Homo sapiens: one gene and its partner. The protein of the gene in region 1 purifies or fractionates together with the protein of each later gene. This does not show direct contact. Each region holds a gene or a part of one and is shown on either strand. Other genes may lie near its edges.

Region 1 (4,698 bases):
TTGAGGTCAGGAGTTTGAGACTAGCTTGGTGAAACTCCATCTCTACTAAAAATAAAAAATTAGCCCGGCATGGTGGTGCACACCTGTAATCCCAGCTACTTGGGAGGCTGAGGCAGGAGAATCGCTTGAACCCGGGAGGCAGAGGTTGCGGTGAGCTGAGATCGCGCCACTGCATTCCAGCCTGGGCAGCAAGAGCGAAACTCCGTCTCAAAACAAACAAAATACTAATGGGGCTGAGTGCAGTGGCTCACACCTGTGACTCCAGCACTTTGGGAGGCCTAGGTGGGAAGATCACTAGAGCCTGGAGTTTGAGACCAGCCTCGACAACATAAGTGGGACCCCATCTTTACAAAAAATTTAAAAATTAGCCAGGCATGGTGGCACACATCTGTGGTCCCAGGTACTCGGGAGGATGAGGCAGGAGGATCACTTGAATCCAGGAGGTAGTGGCTGCAGTGAACCATGTTCATGCTACTACACTCCAGCCTGGGTGACAGAGTGAGATGCTGTCTCTTTTTAAAAAATTATATATATACACACGTGTACACGTATGCACACATATAATACATATTACAGTGAAGTACTTTTCAACTGTTCACACAGAGGATGGGGAGGCACGTGAGAGGGATGAAATCCGGCATGACAGGCGAAAAGAGAGACAGCATGACCGGAATCTTTCCAGGGCAGCTCCTGATAAGAGGTAGGTGTTATTTAAGATGTGTACCAATCATGGTGGCCGGGCGCAGTGGTTCACCCCTGTAATCCCAGCACTTTGGGAGGCCAATGCGGGCGGATCACGAGGTCAGGAGATCGAGACCATCCTGGCTAACACGATGAAACCCTGTGTCTACTAAAAGTACAAAAAATTAGCCGGGCATGGTCGTGGCAGGCGCCTGTAGTCCCAGCTACTTGGCAGGCTGAGGCAGGAGAATGGCGTGAACCCGGGAGGTGGAGCTTGCAGTGAGCCGAGATCACGCCACTGCATTCCAGCCTGGGCGACAGAGCGAGACTCCATCTCACAAAAAAAAAAAAAAAAAAAAAAGATATGTACCAATCATGAAGAGTGGCCTTTTTGTACCTTTTAGAGCAGAGTTTTAGTCCACTAAGATCAGTTTTGCTTCTCTCCCTTTCTTCTTTAGTTTGATAACTTAATAAATTAGCACTTAATTTTCTTGTACTTAACTACTTTGTCTTAGCTCTAGTTGACTGTCTTTGGAATTAATCTTCCATCACTTAAGTCAGAATTGAGAATGATGGGAATATAGAAAACGGAATCGAGATCAGATTTTTGAAAAGGATGTAGTAGTAAATTTGGACTGTTATAGTCCGTTCTTTTTCTACCTCAAATGGTGAGATAAATGGATTATGTGCCTCTTTAGACAGGAAATAAGCTTTCATGCTTTTATTGAGATCATTTTATATGCATAGTACTGCATCTAGTACAATTGAGGAGAAGAGCAGTTTTGAAAGAAGTAGAAAATCAGCTCATTTTTAGGAGTAGTTTAACTTACAGTTCAGAAAGACAGAGCTATCCATAAAATAATTTGAGAAAATTTGCAAAGCACTCTTAGTAAGTATAAACGTATAGAACAAACTAAATATATATATGAGGGCATAGAGTAAAGTAGGAATTGGGGAAGTTTATGGCTCACCAAAGGCTGAGGACTAAAAGTTCTGAAAAGTAGAGGGAACGCTGCAATACTAAGGTGGAATTCTGAGTGAGGGTTAAATGCAAATATAGAATATTTTCTTCCCAAATGAACAGTTTTCTGTGCTCTGATCATCCCATGAGCCTAATACATTTTTCAAGTCATATTTTAAACACAAAAAAGAGGCCGGGCACAGTGGCTGACACCTGTAATCCCAGCACTTTGGCAGGCCAAAGCACGCGAATCACTTGAGGTCAGGAGTTCAAGACCAGCCTGGCCAACATGGTGAAACCCCATCTCTACTAAAAATGCAAAAATTAGCTGGGTGTGGTGGCACATGCCGGTAGTCCCAGCTACTCGAGAGGCCGAAGTGGGAGAATCACTTGAACCCTGGAGGCGGAGGTTTCAGGGAGCCAAGATCGTGCCACTGCATTCCAGCCTGGGCGACAGAGTGAGACTCCGTGTCATAAAAAATAAAAAATAAAAAAATAAAAATAAATAAGCATGAAAAAGATTCCTGCTGGTATTAATTGGCATATTTCATCTCCCTGGATAAATGATGTCATGGAGAAGCAAAGACTCTTACTCTTGAGAGTTGAGGGTAAAGTACATGTAGAAGGAGGAGCAAAGTGTGAAAGTGTTTAATTAATGACAGTCTTGGTTAGTAATTCCTAAGTTGTAAAAGTTACAATGGCTCTGTGGATAAATTGGGCCCTCAAAACGAGTAAAGTGGCTATCAGAATTGACAACATAGAAAAGCTGTGAAATTGTAACTGGATGAAAATCAAACAGCCTATAGAAATCATTTTGTGACCTGAGTTTTTAGTAAAACAAGTAATGACAGTTACCATGGTTTCATTGGGATGTAGGTTGCATATATAATGCAACAGCCAGGAAACCAAATTAATCTGAATGTCAAAAATCATACTAATTCAGTCATTGACATGTTTTCCTCAAAATTCTAGTGGGATAAAATTACTAAATGTGGTTAGATAAAAGAGCTGTTTCTAGCTTATTTAAAATGTTTCGTGTGCTACATCTAAATTGTATCCACTTCCCCAACCCCCAAACCATCATATAATGATAGTAAATATAGACCATAGCAATTTTATATCTCAGCATGGTTGTAAGGTGATTGCTTATATTAAAGAATTCCATGTCAACGAATCTGTTAGATGTTCTTTTGAGCTAACAGGACGTCCTAATTGTAAAACTCTCCCTCTAATCTGAAATGCTTTATAAGGGCTGCCAGCTTGATTATGTATCATCAAGGAATATATGTTCACAAGATGTGAATGTGACATATTCACATCCTTTGTTTCTGAGATTGGTTGTATTTCTATTGAACATATTCAGCTTGTCTATAAAGAGTTTTCAGTTAGTGATGTCGTATTTCAAAATAGGTCGAAACTTCAGAGAAATGAAAATCGGGATATCAGTGAAGTTATTGCTCTCGGTGTTCCTAATCCTCGGACTTCCAATGAAGTTCAGTATGACCAAAGGCTCTTCAACCAATCCAAGGTACAAGTTTAGGAACAGCATATTGTGTGTGTTGATGTGAATACCTATCCTCAGGGAAACGAAAATTAACATACTTTACATTTGGATGTAAATGCCAGCATGATGACAAAAAAATTGGAAGTTGTATGTTGAAACTTGAGACAAGATGAAACAGTTCTGATTTTAACTTCTTATAGTGGGCTGAGATTTGAGACACTAGGAGAAGAAAGAAATTAGGTGATTAAAAACTTGGTGTTGTGGTATGTCAACCTTTTGTTTCTAAAATAGAACCAGGGAGGCCAGGCATGGTGGCTTTTGCCTGTAATCCCAACACATTTGGAGGCCGAAGCGGGCAGATCACCTGAGGTCAGGAGTTCACAACCAGCCTGGCCAACATGGTGAAACCCCATCTCTACTAAAAATACGAAAACTAGCCAGGTGTGGTGGTGCACGCCTGTAATCCCCACTACTTGGGAGGCTGAGGCACGAGAATTGCTTGGTGAGCCAAGATTGTGCCACTGCACTCTAGCCTGGGTGACTGAGACTCTATCTCAAAAAAATAAAAGAGTCAGTGTCCTACAAAAGTGCCTCTTGGGTTTTTTTGTTGTTGATTTTTGGATTTTTCTTTTAATGCTATAGAAATATATCAATTTGGGATTCTTTTAAAAATGAAGCTGTAAAACGGGATTAAAGTACTAGGCTGGCTGTCAGGAAATCTGATTTCTAGTACCAATTGCCATTAGCTAACTAGGACACTTTAAGCCTGGGAAAACACACGCGGGCGCATGCGCACACACAAGAATACAGAAGTGTAAGTTCTACTGGAAAGTAGAGTGGGAAACTTAATTATGACTTGGAGGTTTTAAGTAAGCTCTTCTAAGTGATAATTTATTAGATGCATTTTATATTCTTGGCATTGTTCTAAGTCTTGTTATTATCTCAATTCTTACAAAAATCCTATGAAATAATACTATTATCTCTTATGTTATAGATGAGGAAATTGAAACACAGGTTTAGCTTGTGACTGATGGAATTAAGATTCAAACTGGGTGTCTTGATTTCAAAGTTTTTTTTGTTTGTTTTTGTTTTCTGATATGGAGTCCCACTCTGTCGCCCAGGCTGGAGTGCAGTGGTGCCATCTCGGCTCACTGCAACCTCCACCTCCCAGGTTCAAGGGATTCTCCTGCCTCAGCCTCCTGAGTAGCTGGGATTATCACAGGGCATGTGCCACCATGCCAGGCTAATTTTTGTATCCTTAGTAGAGACAGGGTTTCATCACGTTGGGTCAAGCGGGTCTTGAACTCCTGACCTCGTGATCCTCCTGCCTTGGCCTCCCAAAGTGCTGGGATTACAGGCGTGAGCCACTGTGCCCAGCCAATTTCAAAGCTTTCTTAACCACTATACAATGGCAACTTACCAGCTGAGCAAAGGGATCTAGGGGTGAAATTTCACGTAAGTAAATATTTTCAAGATAATCACCTGTTAGAAGCTTAAGCTTAAAACATTTAAAAATTGTGATGAAAATATTTCTGGCTGGGCACTGTGGCTC
Region 2 (5,865 bases), on another chromosome or scaffold:
TAAAGCCAAGCTATCGTGGTGGGAAGAAGGTGTAAAAATCGGTGGAAACCCTGAAGGCCGAGTACACACACGAAGAGAGAGGGAGTTAGCTGAGAAGCAGCATCCAGGGAAAGAAAGGTCTCCACAAGCTGAGATGATGGCCCTCTGCCCTCTGAACTGTTCATTAACAAGTCACCAGTCCCAGTTCTTTGTTCAAATCCTCAAACTTGGAGAGGCACTGCTCCAATGAGACAGCTACAGCAACCACAGGGAGGAAGTGCTTTGGGCTGCAGGAGAGACAGTCAAAGCCAAATCACGTCCAGGCGGGATGAAGTAAACCTGGACCGAGGAGCCTGACCCAGCTGCGGAGCTCACACATGCCCCATAGGGACGGTCCTGCCATATACACAAACAGCACACTCAGCATGTGTGCAGAGGCAGGCAACTCCTGAGCTTGGTTCTCGCGGGGTGGGGGTGAACAATATACTTTAATGGCCAAGAAGATCCCAGCTCTCTGCATGAGACCCACATCCTCTCCTGGGCTGTCACTCAATCTTGGGAAATACTGGTTCAAGGAAGAGAAACAAGGGCTCCATTGTGTGAGAGCAGCAGGCAAGCTCCCCTTCTGCATCTGGACAGGACCCCCCCCTTCTCCCTCAGAGCAGGCTCAGCTCAGCTGCTGACATTGCTTTCCTGATGGTCAAAAGGTCAGAACCCAGCTATGTTGTCATAGCAGAGAAGTGACCTCAGCTCTAGCGTAGAGAGATGGTCAAGGAACACCCACAGAATGGGGATCCTTCTTTTTCCTCCACCTGAGCCAGAAAAGATAACGAACCCTGCTGTCTCTTATCCTTAGCCCATTCAACATCCCTTTTCAACCTCAGCTTGAAACCCAACCCTCCCTCCCCAGGTGTCAACATTGTCAGTGCTGGGCACTCAGTCAGGACAGGCTGGGCCACTATATCCAGGAGTGTTTCTGAATGGGGAAAATTTAGGCTGGAATTAGGACTGGGAGCCAGGTGTGGTGGCATGCACCTGTAGTCCCAGCTACTCAGGAGGCTGAGGCAGGAAGATCACTTGAGCTCAGGAGTTTGATGCCAGCCTAGGCAAGATGGCAAGATCCTGTCTTAACAAAAACAAAAACAAAACGAGATTGGGGAGGTGGGTGCCCAGTCCCCGTTTCCCCTTTGGTTTCATTTGAGGTCCCTGTACTGTCTCTCCCCAGAAGGCCTTCAAGGTTAACACACAACAATGCCCTGCCCCTTGATTACTGGCCTGGGCTTACAAAGGCGAATACTCAGACAGAATCAGGAGGCACTCAGCTTAATGAAGGGGCAGGGATCTGCAGCCAGCAGATTGCCTGGCCTATATTCCTCTCCCTCGGACTCTTTCTGAATTGTCTTTAGGGTGTGGTTTGCTGCCCAGTGACAACATACATTCCTTTATATCCTGGAATGTTACATAGTCTCTCTTAGTGTCTGGCATACAGTTCTACAGTAGTTCTAGCATTTACATCACTTCAGAACTTACTAATAACATAAGGACAGGAGAAGCAGCAACGTAACAGGATGTGCCCAATCTCTCAGAAGCTTCTCTACAAGCACTACATCCAGACCAGCTTTCCGTAAGTTCCGAAACCTGGCCTGGCAAGACCTGCCTGATGTTCCGCCAGGTAAGGAGCCTCCTCAGTGCAGAGGACAGTGGCTCTCAACTGTAATCCCAGCGCTTTGGGAGGCAGAGGCAGGAGGATTGCTTGACGCCAGGGATTGGAGAGCAGCCTGGGCAGCACAGTGGGAACCCATCTCTATGGGAAGAAAAAAAAAAAACCCTCCTCAGGAGCTGTGAGGAGGGCACAAGGAGGTGGCTATTCTCCAAGCAAGTGCTAGGAAAAAACCACTAAGAACAAGCCCTGCAGCACAGATACTGGCAGCACAAACCAGCTGAGAGGAGAGGTGTTATGTTTGTTTTCTGTTTGGAGTGGGGAAAGGGAGGTTTTGACCATAAAATCCCTTTGTTAAAGTCCATCCAGGACCTCAGGGGAAAAAAATAAAAACAAAATAAAATAAAAGCTGTGTTGTTACTTAGTATGTTTCAAAAGGAAATGGGACATGCTGCACATTGCGAATGTGGGAGGTGGAGGGAGCAAGGGGAAACCTTCTGTATTTAATATGTGCCATCTGTAGCCACTCAGGCCTCCAGACTGAAGTGCTCTGTGGAGAGGACATGGTTGATCATCGGGTGATCCCCCAGCACGGCCCGGCTAGTGCTGATGCTGAAAGACAAGGCTGGAAGTCTGGGTTGTACGTCGTTTCCGAGCGCAAAGAGGCCCTGCGTTCTGGTTTCAGGGGATTCAGGGGATTCTCATCATGTGTGCCAGAGCACAGATACTAAATCTCCCTCACCCTGAGCCCAGGCCAATATCCTAACCTTTCGGCTAAAAGAAAACAGTCACAGAAAACCATTTTTGTTTCCTTAAGAAAATAAATATTTCCACGAGGTCAAGCCAAAGTACAGGGGCTGGAGACGGGGTGGGAAGTGGGGCAAACACTTTAGATGAGCACAGTAGCTCCTGCTAGCTGGGGCATCAGGGCACTCACCATGTCCCTGCACAAGATGCTCACCCACTCCACCTTCCCATCCTGGAGCTGCACAAATTGTCCCTTTCTTGAAGTTGATGCAATGTGTCTCTGTGTTAGATATGAGCTCCCAACTGGGCCCAAGGACTTGGGGTGATGGAGGCTGCAGGCTCTTGCCAAAGCCAGGTTTAAATCCCTGTTTCTATTTTACCAGCAGGGAAGAAATGAGAGTCGAGTTGAGAAAATGCTCAGTTAAGACAGTCAGTCACGGGACAGCTGTATCCTCAGGACCAGCCTGTCATCGATAAGTCCAAGCCCTGGCTACTGCTGCTGGAGAGGCAAAGGAACAATCTTGCCTTTCAGCGCCGTCGGAAAGCTCGAGATATTCTCCAGGCATTGGGTTCCTCATAGCGGTTGTACAAGGGTTCAAGACGCTGTTGCTTCTTCTGTTTGCTTAGCTTAGTTGGGTCTGAGACCTTGAAGAAGGCTGGGGCAAACTCCACAAGCCACCGAGGGTCGATGGTGGTAACTTCACGCATGTATTCCTTGGTGGTGAGCACCAGCTCATGGTACACCACCCTGAGGGGGGACAGAGATAGTACTCAAGCCTCTGGATATAGGCCCCACTCTACAGTCAACCTGGTCCCTAGTAGGCCTCAGCTGAGCTTACATTTTATACTATTACCTCTCCTGCCTGACACCTATAAGACTGCAGTCTGTTTATGACAGCCACACCCCAATACTGAAGCACCCGCACACCTCTAACCACAAGAAAGGTCTCAGGAGAATGTATTCTAGTCCTGGCTCTGGCTCTAACTAGTTAAGTGACATGGAGCCAATCACATCCCTTCTCTAATCTGTTTCTTGCTCTATAAAATGTGAGGATGTTTATTAGAATGTTTCCACAGAATTCTAGGGCTCTGAAGAGGGGCCTCACACTGCCACAAGGGATGGAGAAGGCCAAACATGCAAGGAGCCACATTTCTAACCCTTCTACTGTGATAACATGGTGGTTTTAAATCAGTTTTATATTAGGGTTCTAGATAGAGTCCAATTTTTTAAAAATGCTACTTTAAAACAAGTTTTTTTTTTTAAACTACATCACTAGGTAGTTGTTTTTTTCTTTCTTTTTTTTTTTTTTTTTGGGACGGAGTCTCACTCTGTCTCCCAGGCTGGAGTACAATGGCACAATCTCAGCTCACTGCAACCTCTGCCTCCCGGGTTCAAGCTATTCTCATGTCTCAGCCTCCCAAGTAGCTGGGATTACAGGTGCCTGCCACCACGCCTGGCTAACTTTGTATTTTTAGTAGAGACATGGTTTCACTATGTTGGTCAGGTTGGCCTGGAATTCCTGACCTCTGGTGATCCACCTGCCTCGGCCTCCCAAAGTGCTGGGATTACAGACGTGAGCCACCATGCCTAGCCCCTAGGTAGTTGGTTTTTTTTTTTTTTTTTTTTTGAGATGGAGTTTCGCTCTTGTTGCCCAGGCTGGAGTGCAATGGGTGATTTCGGCTCACTGCAACCTCCACCTCCTGGGTTCAAGCGATTGTCCTGTCTCAGCCTCCCAAGTAGCTGGGATTACAGGCATGCGCCACCATACCTGGCTAATTTTGTATTTTTAGTAGAGACAGGGTTTCTCCATGTTGGTCAGGCTGGTCTTGAACTCCCGACCTCGGCTGATCTGCCCACCTCAGCCTCCCAAAGTGCTGGGATTACAGGCATGAGCCACTGTGCCTGGCCACTACGTAGTTTTTTAAACCACAATTTTTTTTTTCAACTAGGTCTCACCCCTATGATTTTAATTCTCTCATAGGGTTTGATACATTGTGCCTAATTCAGGTTTCTGCTGCTCTAGAAAGGCAAGCAGTGTTATACTAGGACATACTGGGAGTAGTGAAGACACAATCACAAAATACCAGGAAATTTACAGGTTTTTCTCTGCCCAGAAAAGCCCCTAGACCCTGGGACATGTCCACCTACCATTCTGGCTGTCTGTTGAAGAGGGCACTGGAAGGATGGATATAGACCACCTGCTGGTCGATCAGTGTCCGGTAACCCTCCTGCGGGTCTTTCTTGGCAGCATTACGGAAGAACCCACTGCAGATGGCCTTCTGCACTCGGACTGTGGACTTGCCACAGGAAACAACATCCAGCTTGTGTCTATCAAGATAGGACAAAAGATATGAGCCCACTCAGCTTTCACAGGTCTATTTTCACAATGACAGTGCCCAACACATCCATCTTGGGGTGCCCAGAGTAGTCACCAGGACCTTCCTTCCAGCCCTAAGTGTACTACAGAGGCAGCTCTACACAGTGGGCAGACGGAGGCACTCAGAGACAGACACTTTGTTTAGACAGGTATTCAATTCCACAGTAATAATGTTCCAGAGGGTTGCAAACAAAGAGCATTTTTTTCAACAACTAACAGATAATCTTCCTCTTAGGTATCTGAGGTAATTCTCAGGCATACCCTTACTTGGGGAGAAGGAATATAACAAAGATGGAAAAGCTGGAGGAAAAGGGTTATGTGAGGAGCAAGAGAAAAGGTGCCTATAGCTTTATAGGTACACACAGAGATGAAAAGACATGATACTCAAGGTGGTTCAACTCAAACATGCAGAGTCATCAGATTCCAGCTTACCTGTCCATTATGCCTAACATCTGCTTGCGAATGTCCTGGGCCCGGCGCAGGGAACGAGCCTGGATAAAGTTCTCATAGCACCATGGGTTGGAGAACTTGTTGTTCTTCCAGGAGTTGTACACAGCTAGCAGGGTGAGGTGGTCCCCTTCAGTCTGGTGGAATTTGGCCTTCTTCTGATCTGCAAGGGCTTGTTTATCCTGCCAAGCAGTGGGACAGAGGAACATTTCCGACTCAACAGCTACTAACTGAACATGGAGCAATTCTAGGGAGCCCTACAAGACCCTATCAAAAGTGTCCACATCAGGCTAGGCATGATGGCTCAGGCCTGTAATCCCAGCATTTTGGGAAACTGAGGCAAGAGGATCACTTGAGGCCAGGAGTTTGAGACCAGCCTGGCCAACATGGTGCAACCCTGTCTCTACTAAAAATACAAAAATTAGCAGCACACGGTGGCGCACGCCTGTAATCCCAGCTGCTCTGGAGGCTGAGGCAGGAGAACTGCTTGAACCCGGGAGGTAGAGATTGCAAGATCATTCCACTGCACTCCAGCCTGGGCAACAGAGTGAGACTCCATCTCAAAAAAAAAAAAAAAAAAAAAAAAGTCCACATCAAGCATTGGAATGGCAACAGGCCAACTACCCCAACTTCATGGCACCCCCATCTAAACTT

What was found. Proteins that work in one complex are often made in the same cells at the same time.
Region 2: the proteins of SNW1 (region 1) and DHX8 purify together in Homo sapiens (affinity purification with mass spectrometry; 4 studies listed by BioGRID and IntAct, with this or other methods). This does not show direct contact.

The regions. Positions count from the first base shown.
Region 1 is NC_000014.9:77,719,183-77,723,880, reverse strand, and holds part of SNW1 (SNW domain-containing protein 1), read left to right. Parts: intron 1-603; coding exon 604-700; intron 701-3,052; coding exon 3,053-3,170; intron 3,171-4,698. UniProt on the Homo sapiens protein: Involved in pre-mRNA splicing as component of the spliceosome. As a component of the minor spliceosome, involved in the splicing of U12-type introns in pre-mRNAs.
Region 2 is NC_000017.11:43,520,897-43,526,761, reverse strand, and holds the end of DHX8 (ATP-dependent RNA helicase DHX8), read right to left. Parts: intron 5,394-5,865; coding exon 5,197-5,393; intron 4,716-5,196; coding exon 4,536-4,715; intron 3,135-4,535; coding exon 2,915-3,134; 3' UTR 1,092-2,914; downstream 1-1,091.